Linked DNA regions of Homo sapiens. The protein of the gene in region 2 binds, or shares a complex with, the protein of the main gene of each other region. Each region holds a gene or a part of one and is shown on either strand. Other genes may lie near its edges. A codon is read from its position in the direction of its gene.

What was found.
Region 1: the proteins of NMUR2 (region 2) and GNAI1 are in contact, whole or in part, in a cryo-EM structure (PDB 7XK8), measured with the Homo sapiens proteins. Residues at the interface, in NP_064552.3 of Homo sapiens: Thr78 (codon at 8,342), Thr80 (codon at 8,336), Glu143 (codon at 8,147), Arg144 (codon at 8,144), Ala147 (codon at 8,135), Ile148 (codon at 8,132), Pro151 (codon at 8,123), Phe152 (codon at 8,120), Ala154 (codon at 8,114), Leu156 (codon at 8,108), Met239 (codon at 7,859), Leu243, Gln259, Cys262, Arg263, Val266, Leu330, Ser331, Arg333; in NP_002060.4 of Homo sapiens: Glu28, Ala31, Arg32, Leu194, Ile343 (codon at 5,554), Ile344 (codon at 5,557), Lys345 (codon at 5,560), Asn347 (codon at 5,566), Leu348 (codon at 5,569), Lys349 (codon at 5,572), Asp350 (codon at 5,575), Cys351 (codon at 5,578), Gly352 (codon at 5,581), Leu353 (codon at 5,584), Phe354 (codon at 5,587).

Annotation. Positions count from the first base shown.
Region 1 is NC_000007.14:80,211,902-80,221,830, forward strand, and holds part of GNAI1 (guanine nucleotide-binding protein G(i) subunit alpha-1), read left to right. Parts: intron 1-814; coding exon 815-968; intron 969-5,401; coding exon 5,402-5,592; 3' UTR 5,593-9,929. UniProt on the Homo sapiens protein: Guanine nucleotide-binding proteins (G proteins) function as transducers downstream of G protein-coupled receptors (GPCRs) in numerous signaling cascades.
Region 2 is NC_000005.10:152,396,541-152,413,871, forward strand, and holds the start of NMUR2 (neuromedin-U receptor 2), read right to left. Parts: upstream 8,740-17,331; 5' UTR 8,574-8,739; coding exon 7,848-8,573; intron 1,605-7,847; coding exon 1,520-1,604; intron 1-1,519. UniProt on the Homo sapiens protein: Receptor for the neuromedin-U and neuromedin-S neuropeptides.

The DNA.
Region 1 (9,929 bases), on a different chromosome or scaffold from region 2:
ACAACGGGTTTAAGCTGCATGGGTCCACATATATGAAAATTTTTTTCAACCAAGCACATTCATGGGATGCAAAACCTGAGTATACAGAAAGCCACTTTTTCCTATGTGTGGGTTCCACAGAACTGCCTGCTGGACTTGAGTGTATGCACATTTTGGTACCCTTGGAGGTCTTTGTACTAATCCCCCTGAGTATACCGAGAGACGATTGTATTTTTAAAATCAAGTATATGAAATTATAGTGTAGTAGGTGCAGTGCAACACCACATGTTCATTTCTTTCATTTCAGCACTATAAAATGTATCAGTGCCCTCTTTGATGAGCACAGATCCTGGAAGGTCAAGAAACAGGAATTGGAAGTGTCCTTCCAGTATTTATATTTATTATAATATTTAGAGTATTGGGCTAATTGGGTCTTAGCTTGTTCAATTTAAGTTATTAATCTTTAAAAACCTCTATTTATCTTCTAATGGAAATTTAGATGAAATGAACTCTATGACAATGTCATTTCTTTTCACATGTTCACACTTCACATCCCTAGATTATAATGTCCTGTAGCAGGATATTCCCTGGCACAGAGCATGACATATAGTGGGCACTTGGCAAGTAAAAGTTGAATGCAAAAAGTGGTGAAAGATGATTAGACACTTCTCTTACCTAAAGTGAAAGTGTGTTCTGAAATGGCAGAAATGTATTTTTGTGATACGTATTTTTCAATCACTAAACTCTGTTTTATTACAACACCTTTTATTTTTTAAAATAGTCCTCAAAAATCCTTGCTGTTAGTGACGATTGGTTTTATTTTTTTCTATTACAGAACCGAATGCATGAAAGCATGAAATTGTTTGACAGCATATGTAACAACAAGTGGTTTACAGATACATCCATTATACTTTTTCTAAACAAGAAGGATCTCTTTGAAGAAAAAATCAAAAAGAGCCCTCTCACTATATGCTATCCAGAATATGCAGGTATTTTCCTTTTCTGGGAATAACTTGTCAAGTTACATATTTCTAAGTGAAACTTCCCCTAAGGCAAGAATTCAGTTGTTAATTTAAATCTCTTGGCTTAGTGATTCTTAGACCTTTAAGGGGTATTATTTATCAAACTGCAGTTGAGCATAAAAATTTCCTTAAGATGTAGATGAAATTACTGAAAATAATGTATTCATTTTATGGAAAAGCAGTTAGATAATTTTTAGTGATGACTCCAAGTTAAAATACTATTTTTTAAATCCAGTTAACAGATTTCATATCAGGTACTGTGTGATGTACAATAAATAAGACATGTCTCTGCCCACCATCTAATCTGAAAGACAGACATACTTAAACAACAGGCAATAGCAGTGCAACCTACTGCTAAAATAAGGAACATGAACATTATAGTAAGGGGAAATGAAGACAGGATCATTGAGGCAGCTAACTCTTCCAGAAGGGCAGGGAAGGTTTCACAAGAAGCCAAAACTTTGGTAATGAGACTGTTAATAGTGCTTTAATTTTACTATGATGGAAAATTCCCTGGAGTGAGGAAAGTAGACCTGAAGTACAGTCCTGACTTTTCCATAATTAGCTCTTTGATCTTGAACAAGGCAGTTAGTTCACCTAGGTCTCAGTATTCCATCTGTGAAGTCAGGAGTTGGGCTAAAACATTAGTTTTAGTTTAATTTAGTTCCTTGGAGCACCTCCTGGGTTGCTGTTGAAGGCGGAAATGGGAGAGGGAACAGAGCTAATTACTGCCCCCTGCACCCACCACCTTATAACTTTTTCATTAAAGCAGAGTAACTCAGCTTTCATCTGGTTTATGTATTGAGTAAAGTTTTACTTTAGTGAAGAGCATTCAGTATGCCTTAAAAAAACAGGGAGTTTGATTACCACTGGTTTATGTAATCTCCAAATCTAGATAGTTTGAAGAGTTTAGTTATTTACCCTCACCCCACTCTTCCTGTTTTTTTTTTTAAAAGTCTCAAGAATTTGTTTTTTTATAAACAGAATTTTCCTCAGTCTTGTGTTGAGTAAATTGTACGATGAGTATTCACTGCCATTTTACAGGAAATGTTAAGACAACCCTGTGATGTCAGTGCTCAGGTATCCCTACCCATACAAATGAGAATACCGGGGCTTCCTGAAGCCAGAGTCCAGTTCCAGACCCAAGTCCATTGTCCTCCTGCTCCTAGACCATGAACGACTAGGCTACATTTAATTAAACATTCAGTGGAACCAAAAGGGGAGGGTTCTTTGGTAAATATAATCATGTTACTTATAGCTCTTTTTGTGTACGGTGAAATTACACTTCAGTTCAAACTAATTTCACACATTTACTTACTTTAAAACTTTGCTTTCTTTTTGAAAGTCAAAGTCCTAAATCACTGTATTCAGCAACATTTTTTTGTGCTTATTAGAAATAAGCTACCCAGAGTCAAGATGGCTTAATTTTTCCCTTATTTGAATATATTTTTCAGTTTATTTTTATCATATTCTATGATGTAGCCATTTTGTACTAATTCATAGTACCAGATTCCCCAAGTGAATCCATAAATATTGTATACCTACGGGGATTTTAGAGCAACTAAGAATATACTTGTTAGCTCTTTCCTTGCCAAGTAGACAGTGTGTTTAGGAATTTTTGCTTGTGTTTTGCTTAAGTTAATAAGAATACCTGACTTCAGAATCTTTGCACAAAAAGAATATTACATAATTCTTTCACATCCCCAGAGTTAAGATTATTGTTTAAGATCTCCATGGCATGCCCAAAGTATTGATTCAGTTGCTTCTTGCTTCAGCCGCAACTCTCAATTTCCTGTGGCTGTGGAAGAACCCTGTGTAGCCCCTAAACAACTCACTTGATTTATCTCCTGTCTGTCTGCTCCTGTGTTACCCTTCTCCTCCTCTTCTTTTTCCTGTATGTTGCCACTTCACCAGTTTCATCTGCAGTCACGTCATCTTAGCTCTCTTATCCTTTCATAGTCGTATCTATTCTCAATAGGTTAAATTTTGTGGTCAGCCCTAATTTCTCTCTGGAGCCTTAGATTTACATTAGCAACTGCTTGAACATACATGTTTTGTTGTTGTTTGGTTGGTTGGGTTGGTCGGTTGGTTGGTTGGTTAGCACCTGAAGCTCAAACAGAACTCTTTTTCTTGTTTACACTCAGATCTCTTCTCTTTCCCTTTTGATTGTGTCATCAGCCTCCCAGTTCTTCATTTTTGAACCTGGTTATCACCTATACTTACCTTTGTTCAGGACAATTCTATCACACATTAAAAAACAATCTATCATATTTGCTCTCCTGTCCCTGCTTTGCCATTTGTTTCTTAAGACTTAAAATCAGAATGAAGAATGTTCATTCATATGTGTTGTAGCTTTTAGGGTAATCTAGCTAGCTGCCTAGGATATATAGAGCAAATTGAGCTAGGCACTCAATGTAAGCTGTTTGGCTGAAGCATAGTTTAATTTAGCAGTTGCATTAGCTTCTGTGGGCCAACAAGATGCTGTTGATTGCTTTAAAATTTTGGAGAACGAAACTTATGATTTAATAAAATTTGATTTTTAAAAGTATGTGATTTCTAGTGATATAAAAGAGTTAAAATGTAAACTTAAAGACGATAGCTTTAGTACCTTTTTATCCCTAATAAAAATCTCATAATCTATGCTGTCATAGCACATTACACAACATTCCTATGGGCATTTGTCACATTGTATTACACTGGATTCTATAAGATATAAAAGGAGTATGAGGCTTGTGGGGTATGATATTTACTCTTGAAGAGTTCACATTCTAGTTTAGGAGATTCAGCACTGAAAAAGAATTTAAGACTCTATAAAGCAATATAACAAAAACTGAAATAGTTATTTCTAGGAGGAGGAAAAAGTTTTTAAGTGATAGAGAACCCAGCTAGATTTGATTAATTAGGAAAAGTTAGATGGAGTGCCAATTTTGAGCAAATGTGAAGGCAGGCAGAGATCTCAGCCGGTGAAGTAGAATGAAGAGGAAGTACTACAGTACCACAGGTGGCAGTTTGCATGTTAGGTCCTCACGACATGGACCTGGGGTGAGCGCCAGTGTGGAGGAGAGGATCTCAGAATGATGGCACTGCAGAGCAGGCTGGGTAGTAGAGGACCTTGAAAGTCTGGCAGATAATTTTGGATTATTACTACAAAAGAGGGGTTTAAACAGTTTTTTTCCAAATGAAATTTGAATGTTTTTCAGTTTTTTTATTGAAGCATTACATAGAGCATTACATTATATACATTAATGTATATTATAATATTATGTACATACATACATACGTACACACACACCCTCAGCATAAGTGCGTGTTTAAAGGTTAATGTACCAGTATCCACCACTCAGGTCAAGAAACCAAACAGCTTCAGGACCCCAGAAAGCCCCATCATGCTTCCTCTCAGTCTTAACCAATCAAACCCTCCCCACAACACACACATAACACAATCACAACCCATACACATAGTAATCACTGATTACTCACTGATAATCACTGAAGACCTTAATAAAAGAAAGAACACAAAGGAAATATACACCCACTTCACATGTTCCACAGACACTATTGGTGAGGTTTTTGTCCTCACCAGTTCATTTTTCAAACATTGTTGGATCATACAGTATGCGATCTTTTTGCATCTAGCTTCTTTTGCTCAACAGTACACTTAGGAGATTAATTCATGTTACTGAGTACTTTCATTCTCACTTCTTCTGTGTCTTCAGTGATACACAGTTCTGTCAAGTGTATATCTAGAAACTGAATTGCGGGGTCAGAGTGTGTGTGTGATTATCTTTAGATATTGCCAAACAATTTCTGGAGTGTTTGTACTCAGAGGAAGTCTTTTATAGTCAATAACCTGAAAGCTGGAGTGTGTCATTCACTTTTTTTGTAACCTCATACTCCTAAACATCATTGTAGACCTTGGTACAATTTTTGAATAAAGAAAAATGAGTGAAGAATGCAAATTAATGTATATATAGAAAAGGGAGGAAAAAATACTGATCAGCATTCAGCCAACATTTTTTGATCCACCATTGGGCCAGAACTGAAATAGCATGCCGTCGTCAAGCATCTGAGCTGGGGTGTAGAGGACAGAGGATAAGAGGATAAAAGATCTGGCATTTGAGGATTGAGGCAGGAACAAAGATCATGATGAACACGGAATGCCATGTAAAGGAAATTTTTTGTTTAAGGGATAACTTAGTCATTAAAGGTAATTAACATGGAGTGTTTTTCATTTAGAAGAAATAGTGTCTCCCATTCTAGAAGGGAAAGCACAGTTAAGGAGTCCATGAATGAAACTGTATGAAACTGACTTCAGTTTCATATGTATGAAACTGAATTCAGTATTTTAAGCAGTTATTTTAACTTTTTGCATTTATGTTTCTTTCCTTTTTCCATCTCAGGATCAAACACATATGAAGAGGCAGCTGCATATATTCAATGTCAGTTTGAAGACCTCAATAAAAGAAAGGACACAAAGGAAATATACACCCACTTCACATGTGCCACAGATACTAAGAATGTGCAGTTTGTTTTTGATGCTGTAACAGATGTCATCATAAAAAATAATCTAAAAGATTGTGGTCTCTTTTAAGTTTTGCAGTTCATGGTAAAATGCATTTTCAAACCAAATGAGTACTTATATATGGATCTCTGTAGACTAGAGTCTTGCAGCAACACAGAATGTAATATAAGGCAAATGCATCTGGGACTTGACCAAAGTTGTTCTGTTTTGTTTTTTTAACTGAAAGTAACAGAAGGACCTTTCTTAAATGTGACAGATGGTCCTGCAGTGTGAAACTGAAGGACAGTGTTAAAGCTGGGCTCTAGTATATTGATGATTTCTGCATAAGTGTAAATATGCAAATGTATGTATACATGTATTTATGACTTTAGTTTTCGACATTATTTTTAGGTTTTAAGAGTGGCAACTTAGGATTTTAGGGTGATGGCTTTGGAAATAACATAAATATACCTTGTACTGAATGACAGACTATTACTACGTTTGCCAGTTTTAAACAGCTTTATTTATGTTCATGTCCTGTAAATTTTTAAGTACAGTAATTAATATTAGGAAACATTACAGCCCTTATCTAGATTATATGTATACTTGTATTAATAAAAATGTTATTTGTACAAACATTGCACAGACTATTTTAATAACATGATTTGTTCTTTAAATTTTATGTGTTTTATTGAAATGTTCTTAAGATGAATACACCTGCCTTTGGATCAACTATTTAAACATTGTATGCATTTTGATTTTTCCTACTTTAAGAAAATAAAATAATTTAATTTTACATTAGATTCCACGTTAGATTTGGTTTGAAAAACTAAAATTTCAGATTTCTGAGGATATACTGTCTTAGACTTATTGTACACACTTAGTTTTTATTCACTTGTTTTCACTCTGAATTTTAATATTTGGCTGATATGAATGCATTGCCTCAAAGGTGATGTCATCTTAATTTTTATTCACTTTAAATAACTACATTTTTGTTTATAACTAAGTTTGGAGGGATCCTAAGAGCATTTTTGTGGGTAAAAAAAAAACCTGTGGACATAATGAATTTTGAGACATTGATTGGTGAGGCTTTTATTTCCCTTGAGGAGTCTCTTGTACCTAGCATACATGATAGCTCCTTGTTGGGAAGATAACAAGAAGGATCTTTGAATACTCTATTGCTGATATAATGCAAGATTTAAATTTATACATATAACTAATTTCAAATGTAATTATCACACTATGTTAAAATTACTTTTTTCCCTTAGATAATTCAAATTTCTCCACTTGCTTGAGATTATATCATTTCTTTTTCAATTATACTATTATTTCTGAGAATGAAATGGACGATTACACTTAGAAAATGAGTAATAGTGTTTAATAAGTCAGTGATTATATGTGTGCTCAAATAAGTGTTATGTATCAGCTAGATACTGAGCTTTGATAGAATAATTTTCTTTTGATTATTCATGATGTGTCATCTCTGACCTTGTTTCAGCAAAGTAAACAGCACTCCCCACCCCACCCTCCTTTTTTTACTCATCTTGGAAAAGGTTAGTCTTTCAGTACACGTTGCTGGTAAGTAGTTTCCAAGTTACGTGTTGTCACTGGGTTGAAGTATATTTGTGTGTGTGTGTGTGTGTGTGTGTGTGTGTGTAACCATAAACTATATTCATATCTGTTTCATTTGGAGGATTTTCTTCTTTGTAATGTAAAGAAATTCAAAGTTATCAAAGTTCCTTAAATGTGTTAGTTTAGATTCTTTATGTGCCTTTCATGAAAGATATGTTTTCATTAATTTTACTGGTGGACCTGTAATATCCACATTGTGAAGCTGTGTATGAAATTCAACTATAATATGAATAAATTTGAATCATGAGAATTATGGGTTAAAAAGCCACAAAGAAGCACATATTGGTGACCATCATTAATGAAATCCTGAACTTTATTCTGTGTAATTGTGTTAATAAATCCTAATAAATTTAAATTTTTAAAATTTTACAAACCTATTGGCTAAGTACATTTTGGATTAGAATTTAAGTATCAGTCTGTTGTTTCTTCATTTCTTCTTTTTCTATGCTCTTTTTACAATTTCAGCTACTCCAGAAGCTCAGATTTTCCCTGTTCCAAGCTATGAGATGTGATGCCACATTTGGAATTGCCTTCTTGATATCCCCTTCTGAGAATGCATTGCCTGCTTTTTAACTCATTATATTCAAAACTAAATTCATCATCATTCTCTCCTTACACCAGTTCTCACCCTGACTTTGCCATTTTTCCTTACTAAGTACCATCATCATTTATTCCTTCAATGGGGAACTTTTTAGTTTAAGTTCTGGGATACGTGTGCTGAACATGCAGGTTGGTTACATATGTATACATGTGCCATGGTGGTTTGCTGCACCTATCAACCTGTCATCTAAGTTTTAAGCCCTGCATGCATTAGGTGGAACTCTTCTGATTCCTAATCTCCATTTCAATTTACTGACAGTTCTACAAAGCCTTAAATCTGTTTTTTGTTTGTTTTCCTTTCTATTCCTACTACTACCTATTCAAGTCTTTGCTAAACTTCCTCTTAAAATGGCATTATTAGTTAAATTCCCCACCTCCCATTTCTCTCTTCTCGAAAAACCCAGGTTAGTTATCCTAATGTAGAACTGTGGCCCTATCACCTTCTATTCCTTGATCTGCATTGGCTCTGATTTGTCAATAAAATTAAGTATAAGTTAGCCTGCCATTTAATGCTCTTCATCACCTGAGGCCTGTTCCTTTCTACACTGTATCCAAATAGTGTCCTGTGCATAACCTGGGCTTTCCTCCAAGTACTGTATTACTTACTACATGTGATATGCTTAGAGCAGTGCCTACAATGTGGGAAGTGTTCATTTGTGTCTGTCAATGTTATTTTTATTAGCACTTTTAAAATGGTGTGTAAAATGTATTGGCACTTTTAAATTTGGCACTTTTAAATTTGTTTGTGATACCTCTTTTAGACTCCTCTGGCATCTGTTCTTCAGGGTGCCCTTCTGGGAACTACATGATTCTGATAGAGCTGCCAATCGCATTTCTTACTTCTCCGTCTCTAGGCTTAGACCTGACCAATCCGAGTCCTCCAGCATTGGACGAGTGAGCCAATCATTGTCCCAGTTGCCATTCTTAAAGTCCCTAAGGCGCTTGTGGTTTCTAAAATTCTCTTCATTTCAGTAACCTTCTAAAAGTCTACTTTTTTATGCCTAATCTAGTTTAATCGAATTCAGTTTGTTACTGAAAAAGTACTGATTAAAATCCATATGTTCTCATTGAATACTGACAGTAACTAGAGATCAAAAAAGGCTTAAAGAGGTTAATTAACTTGAGCAAGACCAGATGAAGGTTTTAAACCTAGAGCTTCTGACTCCATGTCTGTCAGAGGACCCCAAAGATGCTACCTTATTTCCAGAAAATGTGTAAGTAGTGTTTCGCCTATCCCCACTCTGCCCTTGAGTTCCTCTGAGCCATAATAGTTTTTCAGATTTAAAAAAGGAGATACTTATTAATGTCTTTCATCAGAGCTATTTTTTACTCCTTAGATGTGAAGCTACTTAAGAGCACAGTTACCATTTTTTACATCATTTGCCGTTTGCAGAACCACCTTATGTAAATGAATTTAGTTGATACTGTAATCATTATTACAGATGGTAGCATCATCATTGCTTAGTGTGTTATGTTGGAAGTAGAAAGTGATGGTGAAAATCCTAGGCTCTGGCACCCCGTCTGGCTTCAAATCCTGGCTCAATTTCTTATTAACTGGGAAAATCTGGGCAAATAATTTAGTTTTGCTCTGCCTCCATTTATATCATCTGAAAATAAATAAGGATTAAATAATCCATTAATTTTAATGGTTGTTGTCAGCATTAAATAAGTTCACAGTACATGTTAAGTACCTAGAGGGGAGTGTGGAATGTATAAGCCGTCAATACAATTTGCTGTTATTTGATTATAAATAATAGTTTTAAGGTGCCTTTAAAATCATAATCAGTGCTTAACAAATGGTTGTTGATACGTGCTTTGAATGAAATGCCTCAAAAACAAAACTCTCATAATTCGTTTTCATAATGAAAACTAAGTGTCTCACATATTGATACTGGAAAATGAGAAAATGCAATCTCTAATCAACTTGAGGACACTTCTGTCGTTTTAATGTAACCAATAGTATGAGAGAGTTTATATTTTAATGTTAGGTTGGAAATTTTCTTTTTTTTTTTTTTTTTTTTTTTTTGGTATGGAGTCTTGCTCCTTCACCAGGCTGGAGTGCAGTCGTGCAATCTCCACTCTCTGCAACCTCCAACTCCATGGTTCAAGCAATTGTCCTGCCTCAGCCTCCCGAGTAGCTGGGATTACAGGCATGCGCCACTACACCCAGCTAATTTTTGTATTTTTAGTAAAGG
Region 2 (17,331 bases):
ACTGAATTTGCCAACCCAAGAAAAGTCCCTAATCTGTTCACTACTGCCTACAATTCCCTTTAATTAAAACTTTAATTCCTGACGGGCGTGGTGGCTCAGGCCTATAATCCCAGCACTTTGGGTGGCCAAGGGGTGGATCTCCTGAGGTCAGGAGTTCAAGAACAGCCTGGACAAAAGCCCGTCTTTACTAAAAATACAAAAATCAGCCAGGTGTGGTTGCACACGCCTGTAATCCCAGCTACTCAGGAGGCTGAGGCAGGAGAATTGCTTGAACCTGGGAGGCAGAGGTTACAGTGAGCCGAGATGCCACTGCACTCCAGCCAGGGCAACAGGGCAAGACTCCATCTCAAAAACAACAACAACAACAGCAACAACAAACAACTTTAATTCCTGTTAAAGTTGAACCCCATCCCAACGCAAATACTTTACAGTGTATTCTGCTATTGTGACTTTAATATGAGTGAGCTTCATGTTTTTTTTTTTTTTTTTTTGTGAGAGTAGATTATGACCAAGGAGAAAAGGGGAGGGATAATGAAGAAACTATGTTTCTTGATAGAGAAAGTCAAGTGCCAAGAGGAGCTAAAATATTTCCAAGAAGATAACTCTTAGAATCGAGAAGACCCACTTCAGGGACTTCACAGTTTATTTTTTGTTCAGAAATGCTGTATAGTTACAGTGAATGTTTCATATGCATATTAGCCTGGAGGATTCATTTCTTCTAAACTTTAGATTTTGATTTGCAAAATGTATTATAAATCTCCTTTCCCTCATCAGTAACTCCTCTCATATAGTAGTGCTGTATCATATATTTTTATAACATTCTTTTGGGAGACTGTGGCTCAGTAAGTGAATTTTTAAAAAGATCTTATTTATTCAAAAGTATACTGTTTGAAACAAAGTTATACAATGTCATATGTGAAATGGCTACTTGGAGATGCTTGCCAGATGTTCTTAACCTGGAACTAAAAGATCCCATGGAGTCTATGAGTATCAGGGGTTGGTTCGTGACCTCCTGAGATGGATTGTAAAATCTTTTGTGTATGCATATTTGTTCATTTTTTTTTTTTTTTGGAATGGAGAGTCTACAGCTTTCATCATATTTTAAAAGAAATCCATAATACAAATAGGTTAAAAACCTGCTTATTTCACAGAGGGGGAAAGTGAAGCTCAAAGGCTGAGAAAGTGAATGTAATTTACCAAGCACCACACAGAGTGTATGTCAGTGGATGAAACTGAGAGTGTTGTTTTGAGGGTTCAAAACCAAAAATGAAACAAAACACACAGGTCCTAGAAGCTTGAAGAAGCAAAGGAAGACAGGTCACCTAGCGTTGACATAGACCATTAAGGAGGTGTCTTCATTATATATCTCTCCCCTTTGCTCCTTGATCTTAATCTACTCTCATAAATACTCTGTTTCAGGATAAATTGGAACCTACCCCAGCAGCATTTAGTTGGTACCAAATGTACCTCCTTTGCTCTTATGAACAAAACAAAACAAAAAACAAAATGGGGCACTTACACAGCATCTTGTTGACTGATTTTCTGCAGGGTCTTTGAATATTTGCATTCCCTTCATCTGCCTCAAGAGATTTGTCTTTCTTTAGCTGAAAGGGAAGTAAGTTGGGAGAGATAGTAAGAAAGAGAAACATTTTTCCTCCTGTTAAAATCTGAGAAACATAACTCAAACGCTCATTTTGAAGACAGAAGAACTGAGACCTAGAGAAATGTAAGACTACGTCAAATGTTTAACAGTATGTTGAAGGTGGAATTGGATTCAGGTCATCTACTCAACTGGATAAGTGATTGTGGCCAAGTAATAGTGCAACCACTTTTCGTATACAGTTATGTGGAAACTTGGCTGTGTAGCATGTTAATAGGTGTTCCATGAAAAATGTAAAATTCTGAAGTTCAAGAAAAGTTAGAAAGGCTTCTCAATTCATTCATTCACTCATTCATAATTATTAGAAATCTGTTAAAGTGAAATCCTTCTGCTCTGTGGTGGATAATTAGTAGAAAACCAAAACAGGAATTCTTCTTGCCTCATCAGTATTTATTGTGGATCTTCTCAGAGACTTAAATATGCTGATGGGCATTATGAATTTTCAAGGGGGATAGTGTATCAACTTTCCACTTAGCTCCCCTCTACCTTCCACACTCACATCACCTACTCATATCTTAGCCAAAAGGGAGATAGTGTTTATTTGAGTAAACAATATTTTCCCCCAACCCTTTTCAGTGGATTACCTTGTACCATCTTGACAAACACAAATTGGGAAATGTTGTTTTAATATTACAGTAATATTAATTACTGAAAAGTCTTATGTGTTTCTGAGTTAAGATGTTTAAAGTATATTCATCCTTGTTGGACGATATGGAGATCCTTGATGTAACATTTGAAACTTTCAGCTATCAACACTACTTGTATGCACAATCTTCCTTGCTCAGTTTAAGTCCTGCCTGTTCCTGAAAGACTTTGATGACCACTTTAGCCCACTGTCTTCTCCTTCCTTTGAACTCCCACAGCACTGAAGATCTACATCATTCATCCAGTTGTGGAAGTTTTTCTCTTTATTTTACACATTTTTTAATTTGTGGGGATGTTTGGCCAAATAAAGGAAGCTTTAAGGACTCATGATAAAATACCATCAAATATCCAGAAATTAGTATAGTACATAGTGAATATATATTTGCCCATTAGTTCTCTAGCATTTACTTCTCTCTTCTCTTAATAATAGCACCCTAATTTTCCCTTAGGGAATGTACTCCTTCCCCATTCTTAGTCTTTAATTTGTATAGAGGTGTCACTAAACTTCAGCTCCAGGTATAGTCCCTAAACAATTTAGCCAATCAACTTGTCCTATCCTCCAGTCACAATGATTGAATAATGCAGACCAATGAGATTTCAGATATTTGCTTGTGCTTCTGAAGATGCAAGTTTTCATTTATTTTTTATTGGGACTGCCAGAGAGAGTCCTTCTCTGCATATGAGGTCTGGAATTACAAACGTTATTTTTTTTCCACCACAAAGAAAAAATGCTTGGAGCCACCAAAGGATGACTGTGTGCAGTTTGAGGTTGAAACCAACACCATAGAAAAAAAGAGCAAAGAAACAGAAATAAAGTTAGGTTTATAATAAGATCGTGTGTTTTATTTAATTAATCTTCACCAAGAGCTAGCTCGGCTTCTGAACTTTTCATGTCTATGCTCCCTTTGGTATTTACCCAGGGTTGGAGTCTCTCATTGGCAGTGTAAAAAGTCCAGGCTAATTGATTGAAGCCATCAGGTGGAACGAAAATTTAACTTATTTTATACAGTCATGGCAGTAGATTAGAATCAATCTATTTAGTTACAGGTAGATAGATTCTAATTCAAGATAAGGAAGAAATTGTTGTGATTATGTGCAATAATGAAACAAACTGCTATAAGAAGCAATAATCGTCCTGGGCTGGATAGCATTTTGAAGGAATATTCCAGAAAAGGTATTTAAAATTAAATAGACTTGGAAGAGTGGGTCTTTAAAAGCTGCCTCGAAACTTCAGCAAATCCATATCCAGTCTTCCTAACAAACATATATGCTGCTTGCAGTTAGGTAGCACTCAGGACCACATAGGACCTCAAGAATCCTCTTGGATAATGTATAAACCTGGCCATTTGTCTCTTGAATATATCGGAGTGTTCTACATGTATCTGTGTCTTCATAAAGTAAAGGATTAAAGACTCTGTGAGATTAGGACTAGAAAGGAAAAATCTGAAGGTGAAAAGTATTATTAATGCAATAGTAAAACAAAATCATGCAGGTAGAGTGCTTATCTCAGTGCCTGGCACATGATACTCAGCAAGTTGTATATTACTGTTATTACAGTGATTCTGATTATTATCCAGAGTATACTAAAGAGACATCAGAAAAAATGATTTTTAAAAACTAGAGTTGTTTGTTTATATATGTGAGGTTACTTTTGTGAAGTACTGAGTCCCTTCTAGAAATTCTTTTCTCATGTTACCACTCGCTCACAAAGAGTGCCTGTACTGATACAAAGGAGGCAGATATGCTGAGAAGAAAAACACATTCAAGGTTAGAGCAATGTATCAAACTTCAAACTTTACTAACTCATCTTAGATTAAATCTATTAAAGGTTCTAATTACTTCATGCCACTTAAAGATTGTGGTTTTTACATTATGCAGTTATTCTATTATTTTATTTCAGTTCATAATTAAGAACAATAAAAAATATTGAGATATATTAGTCACTTCCTGCCTTGTGTTTAACAGTTCTCAATGGTAATTTCTCCACCCCAAGGAACAATTTTTAAAAAAATCAAACATCAAACAAATAGTTCACGCAATTCTTTTATGAACAGGCTTCCTGTAGCAGCATAGTTTACACTAAAAAGAAAATCATGTGCTGATGAATTGTTGCTTATTTTGCAGCTTCCTTAGTTTATAATGACCTAACTAGCTAACTAGAGGAAGAGTGAAAAATTGATTACTTACATATGGTGTACATTGTTCCAACAGAATTTGGAGTGGTTGACAGAATAGAATAGAATCAAAACAGTTAGTCTAGCCAATATTCAATGCTGCTTTATCGTTGAATAATTTCACTTCCCTACAGATGTTTAGTAAAGTAGATATTCAACCATTCATTATTCTTCCCCACCCCAAAACTTTTATTTTACAACTCAGGTTACAAAAGGAGGAGTGCAAATTTGTGATTACTATTACTAAATATTGTGATTACTAAAAGTTGTGATTACCATTACTATATAGTGTGATTACTAAAAATTGTGATTACCTTCTTTAGCTACAGAAGAGCAAAGTGAAAGGGAGGTTCGCGAGGTTATTATTCAGGTTGATACATTATGCTGATCAGTTGTTTATACTGCCTGAAATCACTCTACCAGATGTTCATTTATATAGTTTGTGGGACTTAGTTTCAGAATACCAGATTATAATATAGGTTTTGTGTAAATATCTCTATAATCTTAACACAATCTATTTACTTAAAAAAATTAGTGCAACCCTGTGTTGGCATGGTTGAATTCTGCTGCAATTCATACATCCATCCTCATCACCTCAATCATGAATGCAGCATGCAGGAGATGTAAGAACTAAATCAGACTGTCACCAGAACTTCCTCCCACATGTGGAGGGACTTGCCCTAGAATTGTCTATTTTCTATCTCTATAATGTTCAAAGCCTGGAGAACAGCTCAGTGGTGGCTGTGTCCTGGAATGATGCAGCGTGACTGAATGCCGAGCTGTGAGCACAGATATGGGTTTCCTCCTTCTTCTCTGGTCCTGTGATTTCATCAGTCTTGGGCTTGCTGCCTTCTGAAAGCAGTGGGTCCCAGAGTCAATCATACCTTCAAACTATCCAACAGAGTCACTCACTTAATCATTAGGATTGCTTGGGTCTCCTTGAGATGATATTTCCAAGTCTTTGTTTTAAAGGTAGAGAAGCTAAAGCCCAGCAATGAAGGAAGTAATTTGGCCTCATTCATTCACTGAGCTTACAGTCTAGTTGGGGAGAAAACAATTAATTAAGGAATCCATAAGTATGGAAATATAAATTGTAATGAAGGAAAATCACGGAGAGCCATGAGTACCTACAACAGGAAACAGGGATGCTCAGGGAATCTGGGAGAGCTTCCCTGAGGAAGCGTGTTGAAGTATGACACAGAGAATAAATGAGGGTTAGAAAGGCAAAAGGGGGAGTGGTGGCAGACAGTAGGAACATTTCAGGCTACAGGTATAGTGTACATAAAGGCCCTGCGATCAGTGACACAGAATAGGGCCTACTTTTCCTGAGTTTCAGTATAGAGATTTTTAAATTCTTCTAGAAGTGACTTTGTAAGCGTTAGTTTCTTTCCTGGTGTCCTCTGGTACCCTGGATAACAGCTCATCCTTCCTGAAAACAGGCTGTCAAAAGTTGCATTACATACACAAAGCAAACCAGGGTGGTTTTTAAACTTTTGTCTGAGCTGTCACTTACCTCCTGATACAAGGTAGCCATGGACTTTTGATAATAAAACACAATGAAACTGATTGTAACAGATTGGAAGAGGAACTGTGCATTTCCTACTCAAAGTTAAATATTTTTCCCAAATTGACCCAAAATAGGTGACTGTTTGGCATTGGATGAGGTAATATTAAGTGGGTGGGTATTTCTCATAAGACTTTCTTTGGAGTTGTATAGAAGTCTTTTCCCCGCAGTGAGATGTGCAGGACGTTCTTAAGACATGGCTGTGAGCTAGTGCGGGGTGGGACATGTCTCTGGGAATACAGGTGCTAGCCCTCCAGGAGGGGACTGGCACAGCTCTCTGCCTAATTAGATTTACTCTTGTGCCCAGATGTCCGTGACACTTAGAATTTGTTCTTCCTACTTAGACCTCGCTATTCACCTTAGGGACAATAGGTATTCAAAAGGACTACCATTGGGCACTCGCTTCTGACAATCGGCTTCTCAGAGATGGACTGAAATAGGAGTATATTAGTTGTCACATAAAGTGTGATGTCAGAGCCATCTCAAAGCAAATGATGTGAATGTGATATCTGTTTGTCCTGTCATTTAAAACTCACATTACTTCAGCTCACAGGTGTTTTTTTTTCTTTTTTTAAAGGAATAATAGACTGTTAGAGCTACAGGGGACATAGATAGGATCTGATGTGACCTTTTCATTTTATACACGGGAAAACTAATTCCAGGAGAATGATGTGGCTTGCCTAAAGGCATATTATATGTCAGCTGTAGATCTGGGAGTCTAAATGGTCTCGTAACTGTTTACTACACAAGCTATAATACCTCCCTTAAGTGGGTGTAAAATTGTCATTGTGAAGAACTTTTCTCTTCATGAATTTGGGTGCAGAATATACCAGAGAGGAATTATATAGACTAATTCCTACCCTTATTAAAAATAGTTTCTCTCAGCTAATTTAGACACCCCCCTTCTGAAAAAGAAATCAGTTTACCACCATAAACATAGGAAAAGAACCTCTAATTATATATGTTGCAAAATAAGTGATATCTTTTTCTTAATTTCAGATAAGCTCTTATTCACATTTTTTCACTCTATCTCATGTGCTGTTTACTTCCTTATCTCTCAATCTGCACCTGCTCAAAAGAAGCTCAAGTTATCTCAGTCATGTCATTAATATATATGATTATATATTATATATAACTATATATTATATATATGACTATATATTATATATGTAACTATACATATAATATATATAGTTTTATTTTGTTTTGTTTCAACCTCATTTTAATGAAAGGGTCGGAGCAACCACAGTAAATGTCTGATTTTAAAACTGAATACCTATCTTGGACTACAAAATAGGCAGGGATAGTTTGTGTTATACTCAGACCAAGTTGGTGTACAGGAAAATCTCAATGCAGGCAGTGGCCAGGGGCTGGAAAGTGACAACAGGATGTGGAGAAGTCTCTCAAAGTGTGGCCACCTCACCCCAGATCACCTGATGTGCTTATTTAAAATGAGGCTCCACCTCAGACCTTCTGAATCCCATTTTCCTGGGGGTGAGGTATGCATATTGCTCCCAAAGTAAGTTTTCTGCATGATTCTTAGGAACATTTAGATACGAGAACCCCAAGAATAGAGGGAAGAAAAATAGAAGACGAGCTAAAGGAAATGATAAATAGTTGTGGTTACCATTCATCTCATTTGAGGCAAGTCCTTTTAAGTCTCAATTTCCCATCTGAGCTCATTCTATTTTCCCTCTGTTCCCTTCCATTTCTGAATTTCCCCAATTCTAAGTTTTTCTCTGAACTTTGAGCCTGTGAAAAAAGAAGGGATGCTGCCTCAGGCCACCCCAGCCTAGATACTCACTCTGAGTGCCATGAGGTAGTAGAGGACACTGATGACAGTCATGGGGAGGAGGTAGAATAGGAAGGAGGTGACCTGGATGATGAAATTGTAGATCCACATGGGCTTGATGACCGTACAGGTGGCCGAACCTGGGACCAGGGACCCATTGGGGAAGTAGTGGAACTTGATGCCATGGATGCTGGTGTTGGGCAGGGAGAAGAGCACGGAGAAGCCCCAGACGATGCCGAGGATCCTGAGGGCCCGGCGCCGGGTGCTCTGCAGTTTGGCGCGGAACGGGTGTAGGATGGCCACGTAGCGCTCCACGCTGACGGTGGTGATGCTGAGGATGGAGGCGAAGCACACGGTCTCAAAGAGGGCCGTCTTGAAGTAGCAGCCCACGGGCCCGAACAAGAAAGGGTAGTTGCGCCACATCTCATAGACCTCCAGGGGCATTCCAAGGAGCAGGACCAGGAGGTCAGAGACCGCCAGGCTGAAGAGGTAGTAGTTGGTGGGCGTCTTCATAGCCTGGTGCTGCAGAATCACCAGGCACACCAGGACATTGCCAATGACCCCCACCACAAAAATTGGCACATACACCACAGACACGGGGAGGAAGAAGTGGCTGCGCCGAGGTCCGCAGAGGAAGGCCAGATACTCCTCGGTGCTGTTCAGGTGTTTCTGGAATGGATCTTCTAGTTTCTGCTGGTAGATCCAGGAAGCATTCTGAAGTTTTTCCATCCCTGACATTAAAATCCAAGGCCTGAGCCTCCCCTGGTACGAGGCTCTGTTTCAAGCTGAGCCAGGAAAAAAAAAAAAAAAAGAAAAAAGGAAAACAAAAAAGAGAAAGCAGTCACGAAAGTCACAGGCTTCGTAAGGAAGGCTGGGAGAGAGTGAGTGTTTCACCCTCCAGGTTAGGCTGCCTGGACCGCCGATCCCTTTTGAAGAGCCCCGGAGACACAAGCCCCTCCCCTTGACAGGCTGAGGGCCAATGAGAGTGTGTTAGGCTGCACTGGAGGAGAGGGGTGCTGGCTTCGAGTCAGGAAGCAGGGGAGGAGGCAGAGACCTCTCCCTGAATGGGAAGGAGCTGGGAAGGCAGAGCTGACACAAAAGAAGCCACTCGAACTTCATGGATGGGCACTTTGAGCAATGCAGGTTGCAAAGTTGTGGGAATCTGGGTAGACATAGAAATTAAAGTTGCAGGGCCATGGGCAAAAGAATACCAATCTCCACTAACCCTTGTCAGCCGTACAGCATGATGAAAATAGGAGATCAATAGATTTCTCAAGTTATCTTGTTCCACTGGAAATTCAGGGTTCTCTGGGGATTAATGTGATAACATGATTAATGTGACTTTTTGGTTTTAACTGCATCAACGATAGAATCCGAAGCCTGAAAGGGCGCATGCACAGTGCCTAGCCCTGACTGCTAACTGACTCTTCAGTCTCAGCAGAGCTTTGCTGTAAGCAAAAGGCAAATGGACTTCAGAATTAGGAACACTCATAGAAATTTAGGAAAGTTGGCACAGTTACCCAAACTCTTAGAGGCTTATTTCCTTATCTGCATCATTAATTCGATTGCGTTCCACAATAACTTCTTGAGGATTCACTATTTGCCAGGGAATGTTCTAAGCTTTGTAGAAACACTAGTGTACAAGCAAGACAAGGTCTCTGCCCTAGTGGAGCTTTTCTTGCAGTAGGGAATTCTGAAAACACACAAGCAAATGAATAAATTAATAATATAATTTCAGATAGTAATTGATAAATAATTATTTATCAAGGATGGTGAAAGAAAACTTATCTCAGGAGATGTCACTTTAGCTGAGGTCTGAATGATGAAGTCAGTCATGAAAGAGCTAAGGGAAGTGTATTACTCAGCAAAAGTAATAGCAAGTGCAAAGGTCCTGAGGCAGAAACAAGCTGGATAGGTTTTAAAAATATCAGGAAGACCAGAATAACTGGAATTTAATAAGTGGTCAGCAAAGTATGAATGCTTAGATTGAAGTGGCTGGCAGGTACAGGTTCATGTAAACTCTTATAGGCCATGGAAGAGAGTTTAGCTCTGATTCAAATGGCAGGGAGAAGTCTTTAAAAGATTTTGCACTGGAGAATTAACGAGGGAGAAATTTTAACAGAAGGTAGGTAAGAGGCTAGTAAGACATAGTAGTGGCTTGGATTCTATGAGCAGTGGAGTTGAGAGATTTCTTTGGATTTAGGAATATTTTTGCAGGAGATAATACCTTTTATGGTCATTGAGAAGACTAAATTAAATTATATATAACGAAGCAACTTATACTTAAGAGATGCTCACTAAATGTTAATTTTTTCCCTTTATTTGTTAAATCAGATTATGACGTTAAAAATTAGAGAGGGAAAGTGACTTGTCCAAGAATAAGTCATCTCTCAAGTTAAGATAGTTTACGCTGCTGTAACAAATGATTGACATATCTTGGTGGTTTTAAACAATACAGATTTATTTCTCTTGTACTTCAAATGTATTGAGGGTCTGTCTCATGCTATGCTCACTCATAAACCTAGGCTGATGCAGTGGTCACTCTCTGGAATTTTGATTATCATTGTGATAGAGGAAAAGAGAGCTCTGGATGGTCTTAAGTAGGTAATTATAGGCTCTAGCCCAAAAGTAAGTAACTCATTGCCAGTTTTTCTCACAGCTCATTGACCAAGGTTAATCATATGTACCCATTCGACTACAGCAGGGTCAGGAAGTGCTGTCTTAGCATGTGCACAGAAGATGGAAAAGTAGGAAAAATTGATCAATAACATTAATAATAATTACAGACATGTAATAGGTATTGCAGAGCCAGAATTAGGGCCCTCTAGTTAAAGGCAAGTTTTGATGTTAAAATCACTATTTACAAACTTTAACGTATTTTTCTAATGAAATAGGAAAAGTTTAATGAGAATATCTCATTTAGATGTAAGGATCGTTATAAGGGTGCACAGTGGCAGACTATAAACTTAGCGCTGAGGAAGATGGAAAATATTTCTTTCTTTAACAAAAATATTTTTCCATAAGTTACTGGGGTACAGGTGGTATTTGGTTACACAAGTAAGTTCTTTAGTAGAGATTTGTGAGAACCTGGTGCACCCATCACCCAAGCAGTATACACTGCACCATATTTGTTGTCTTTTATCCCTCACCTGCCTCCCTCTCTTCCCCTAAAGTCCCCAAAGTCCATTGTATCATTCTTATGCGTTTGCATCTTCACACCTTAGCTCCCACATATCAGTGAGAACATATGATGTTTGGTTGTCCATTCCTGAGTTACTCCACTTAGAATAATAGTCTTTAATCTCACCCAGGTCATTGCAAATGCTGTTAATTCATTCCTTTTTATGGCTGTGTAGTATTCATATATATGTATGGAAATATATTTATATATTATATATCCATATATGGATATATATTTATATATTATATTTATATTATATTATATTATATATTATATTATATTGTATATTATATATATTATATATAATATATATAAGATATATTATATATAATATTATATATAATATATATTATATAGTATTTATATATGATATATCCATATATATGGATATATAGGATATCCATATATGATATATCCATATATATCAATATATATCAGAGTTTCTTTATCCACTCACTGATTGATGGGCATTTAGGTTGGTTCCACAATTTTACTGTTGCGAATTGTGCTGCTATAAACAGGCATGTGCAAGTATTTTTTTCGAATAATGACTTCTTTTCCTCAGACACCCAGTAGTGGGATTGCTGGATCAAATGGTAGATCTACTTTTAGTTCTTTAAGGAATCTCCACACTATTTTCCATAGTGGCAGTACTAGTTTACATTCCCACCAGCAGTGTAGAAGTGTTGCCTGATCACCGCATCCACACCAACATCTACTGATTTTTGATGCTTTGATTATGGCCATTCTTGCAGGAGTAAGGTGGTATCGCACTGTGATTTTGATTTGCCTTTCCCTGATTATTAGTGATGTTGAGCATTTTTCCATATGTTTGTTGGTCATTTGTATATCTTCTTTTGAGAATTGTCTATTCCTGTTCTTAGCCCACTTTTTGATGGGATTTTTTTTTCTTACTGATTTGTTTGAGTTTGTTGTAGATTCTGGGTATTAGTTCTTTGTCAGATGTATAGATTGTGAAGATTTTCTCCCACTCTGTGGGTTGTCTGTTTACTCTGCTGACTGTTCCTTTTGCCATGAAAAAGCTCTTTAGTTTAATTAGCTCCCAGCTATTTATCTTTGTTTTTATTGCAATTGCTTTTGGGTTTTTGGTCATGAATTTCTTGCCTAAGCCAATGTCTAGAAGGGTTTTTCCAATGTTATCGTCTAGAATTTTTATAGTTTCAGGTCTTAGGTTTAAGCCCTTAATCCATCTTAGTTGATTTTTGTATAAGGTGAGAGATGAGGATCCAGTTTTATTCTCCTACATGTGGCTAGCCAATTGTCCCAGCACCATTTGTTGAAAAGGGAGTCCTTTCCCCCACTTTATGTTTTTGTTTGCTTTGTTGAAGATCAGTTGGCCATAAGTATTTAGGTTTATGTCTGGATTTTCGATTCTGTTCTTTTGGTCTTTGTGCCTATTTTTATACCAGTGCCATGCTGTTTTGGTGACTATGGCCTTATAGTGTAGTTTGAACTCAAGTAGTGTGATGCCTCCAGATTTATTCTTTTTGCTTAGCCTCTCTTTGGCTATGTGGCTCTTTTTTCGTTCCTTATGAACTTTAGAATTGTTTTTTCTAATTCTGTGAAGAATGATGGTGGTATTTTGATGAGGATTGCATTGAATTTATAGATTGCTTTAGGCAGTATGGTCATTTTCACAGTATTGATTCTGTTCTCCATGAGCATGGGATGTGTTTTCATTTGTTTGTGTCATTGATGATTTCTTTCAGCAGTGTTTTGTAGTTCTGTAGTTTTTTTTGAGACAGATTCTCACTTTGTTGCCCAGGCTACAGTGCAGTGGTGCAATCTCGACTCACTGCAATCTCTGCCTCCTGGGTTCGAGTGATTCTCCTGCTTCAGCCTCCCAAGTAGCTGGGACTACAGGCATGCACCACAGTAACTCCCAAGTAGCTGGGACTACAGGCATGTACCACAGTAGCTCCCAAGTAGCTGGGACTACAGGCTGGGACTACAGGCATGCACACTACAGGCATGCCTGGCTAATTTGTATATTTTTAGTAGAGATGGAGTTTCGCCATGTTGGCCAAGCTGGTCTTGAACTCATGTCCTCAAATGATCCACCCACCTTGGCCTCCCAAAGTGCTGAGATTACAGGTGTGAGCCACCGTGCCCAGCCAATATTTCTTAATATATGAGGCAACAAATCTAAAATTCAAAGGCATTTCCACATTGTGACAGGGTAGGTCTAATCAAAAAGGATGATGTCTAGTACAGAATGTAGTAGCAGGCTCAATGCAGGGAGATGCTATAGAAGTAATAAAGGCACGGACTGCAGCGTAGCTTTGGGATTCAAATCTTGGTTCTGCCTCCTACTAGCTATGTGACCATAAGGAACATAATTAAACTCTGTAAGCCTCAGTTACTCCATCAGCAAAATGAGTAAAATAGCAGTATTGCTTTACAGGATTTCTAGGAGAATTAAATCGTTCCTGGTAAAATATTCAGTGTAAATTATTTTAAATAACATAATATTTAAATAAGTATTTAATAATGGGATATGCAATTGAATAATAATGATAATTTCATGATGGGGATGTCTTTCTTTTTATTGGGGTCAGAAAGACTATTACAAGATTTAAAAACTGGGAGATGTGCTTGGAGCTGCTAAAATGAGGAGTACTTCCAGCTTTTAATTAACTTTTAGTGCAGTATAGCAAGTCAGAATAGCTTCTAGGAAAGTATATAGACATCTGTTCCCCAGGTCACCAAGGTTTGCACCTGTACTTACCAACTATGTGAAGATGGTGAGAATAGCAAGGGGCTCAATATCTTGTAGGTAAGATTTGATGCAAGTGGAGATGTTTGCCTGAAGAAGACTCAGAGGAAAAAAGTGGGGCATGAGGATCACTTTCAAATATTTGAAAAAATATTTGGGTGACACCCATGGACAGAGGGGGAACTAATATTTAGAAAACCTAAAAGAACAATAATTTAGAGTCAATTCCACTGAGATTTCCTGATAAGTGAAGAGAGAACCTCTCAATCGTTCCCCTGAAAAATAAGAAATCAGTATTTACCCACCAATTTCTGTCCCCTATTGTTTGAGGTTTGCTCCTGGGGCAATAACTCCCCTATATCTCTGGGCTATTCTTGCTCATGGGTTGCATAGGCTTCCATGTGTCAGGGAAGGCTATGGAGTAGAAAAATAGAAATGTGGCATAGACTTATGATGCAACCCTATCAGCCTGGGTAAGTCTGAGCTTGCAAAGGGCCATCCTTCCCAGCTGTAGCTAAAACCACGTGGGCCAAGGGATTATGATTTGGGAGTACCAGTAGCATTTTCTAAAATCTATAAAATAAAAAACAATAACACTAGATAACATCTGTTGAACATTTATTCTTTCCAGGCTCTGTTGTAAGCTTTTACATGTATCAGCACATACAATCTTTACAATACTGCCTACAAGGTAGGCTGTTTGTTTATCCCTGCCATTAGAAGCACATGCAGATTACGGGAATAGTTGAAACTCACGTAGTATATCAGTCATTTGGGTTAGGTTATGTTTCAGTAACAAAAATTTCCAAATTTTTGTAGACTAAAATAAAGGTTTATTTCTTGCTCATTCTACATGTCATCAAGGGTTGTCCAGTAGTCTCGGTCCTACACTGATCTCACATTGGAATTCAGGCTCCAACTGGTGTTTTTACAATTCCCAAAGGAGGATTCCCAAGGGGACCCTACTTAAATGTTCTGCCTAGGAATGACAGAGATCACTTCCATTCACATCTGAGGGCTAAATCAAGTTACATGGGAAATCCTAATTCTAAGGAGGGCACAAAGAACCATCTCACTATGTGCTTAGGAGGAGAAAGCCAAAACTACTTGGTAAATAGAATTAATGACTATATGTTGTGCTCCTCTGGACACAAACATTCTTTCTTGCAGGCAAAAGACTCTTCTCCCTTCTCTATTGCAGATACCCCAACATTCCTAGCCCAGTCACAGCTGCAAGTTAAAAATCCAGGATCTCTGGAGAACATCCAAGATGTTCTTTATAGCAGAAAATAGAACAGTATTCTCTCTGTCACATCCATATGAGGATCCTCTCATTCCAGAGACCTATAAACTAAAAGGGCAAGTTATTAGTTTCCCACATGGACACTTCCAGCTTCTAATAATACTTTTTTATTTGCCCATTATCTGGCCCCTAGACAAATGCCATATACTTTAGAGTTCTATAGCAATGCTCCACTTTCAGATCCAGTTTTGAGTCAGTAACTTGGACTAGATTTTGCTGAGGTAACAACCCCAAACTCTCAGTGACTTTAAACAACAAAGGCTTTTTTTCACCTGTGTCGATTGTGGCTGGGAAGGGAAACTTTTGTGTTACACTGTCTTCATCTGGGATAATATGGAAAATTCCACCACCTGAAGGGGAGTAAAAAAAACTCCTGGGAAGATGTGACCATGGGGGTGTTGGCTTCTCAATCCTATCTTTCCAAGGGACTTCTCCTTGTGCTTTAGCATCTAGCACTGTTCTGGGTAATGAGGATTTACTCAGTAAAGGGAATATAAACGAAAAGGCCTTGTAGCAACTAGATTGGATATAAGGCAACCACATTTGTCAAAGGAATAATTAGGCAAATCATCATCATCTTATAAGAAAGTTTTTATTTTATAGACACTAACAATGTGAAGAAATTTTCTAGAAAGTTCTGTTAGTAGGAACAGAACTTTGATTCAGAGGCATAACATTCCAGCTCTCTTCAGCATTGGCATCCCAGGGAGTTAGGAAATGCTCATGTGACCTTGGATAACAACAATGAAAATAGAGTGCCTAGAACAAGGGGAGTTATCTTCAGTTCTGTTAAGCACCAGAACAAGACTATTTGCACTAGTTTGAGCAGACAGACACTAGTGGCATTGAGGATCTTTTCATATATCTATTGGCCATTTGTACATCTTCTTTGGAGAAATGTCTATTTGTGTCCTTCGTTCATTTTTTAAAATGTTTTTCCTCATCACTAAATTGAGAGTATTTTTTATGAAAGCTAAGGTCCCGTCTATGTTCCAAAAATATCAGTGGCATTTGGCTAATCACAGTAATTCTTCCACCCTGATGATCAATCTAGTGTTTTTTAAATGAGGCCTAGTGGGTCTGTACTCTAGCAGATTTATAGGAGACAAAGGAGATAGGTCCTTGATTTAGATTAATTTTTATAGATACATCTGTGCCTTCACAGTTTCCCAGAAAGTCAGGGTGAACTTTGTGGCAAGAGATGTCACATATCCACAATGAGAATCATGGGTGGCTGTTGATTTCTTTCTGAACTCTTTGATGGAAATAGAGTCAGTTTCAGCTCTAATCTCAATGGCTTTTACTGATTTAAAACAGAGAATGACTAAGGGTTCTTAAAACACTAGCAGATGGAAGCTTTGGTAATTATTTCTTTATGAAAGTGGATACCTGAGTCGCATCTAGAATACACAGATTGCTCTGTAGATCAGAACGTGACTCAGTAAAGACAGCACCTCGCTAGTGGTATTATTTAAAAGGAGAAAAATCCTCCATTGTCTAAAATTTCCTGCCCCAGTCGTGCTTGAAATCTTATTATTTCTTTAAGCATCTCTTCTCTGTGAGGAAAAATCATCATCAACAATGCCAGCTTCCATGATCGACTGGCACTGAGCTAAGTGCTTTGTTTGTATTCTCTAATTTAATCCTTGCAACAACCCAAAGAGGAAGTATTTTTATTACCCACATTTTACAGATGAGAAAAGCCAAGATTTAGAAAGGTTACATGCTTCACGAACTCACACAGTTAATTTTCATCAGTGCCACAGGTACTTGTACAGGACCTGACCACTTGCTGTCTGAATGCAGAGCCTTTGCAGTGAGTTACGGCTCAGAATCACCATGTCACAAAAGCTATGCTATTTTCACATAAATTACTGAGCCATGCATTTAAGGGGTACCTACATTTAAACAGAGTATTCCTATAGATACAATATATTCACCCAAGGGTCAGTCCATAGCTGACATGTACTCAGTTCTGGGATTCACAATGTAAGGGACTTTTCCATTTAAATTACAAAATAAAATTTTATGCACTCAAGTTAATAGAACTTGTCGAAGTATTTTGCACTGAAGTGTTTACACCAGAACAGATTGTAAATGTACACAGATTGTTCTGGTGTAAATTAGCTTGCAGGATAAAGTAAGTGGCAATTTTTCATATTAGTATTATTTATATAATAAGGTTACCTGTAGATAACACCAGTGTGCCAGGCATGGTGAAAGGTATTTTGAACAAAAATAGTCAGGGTATGGTTATGACTTAGACTAATCAACT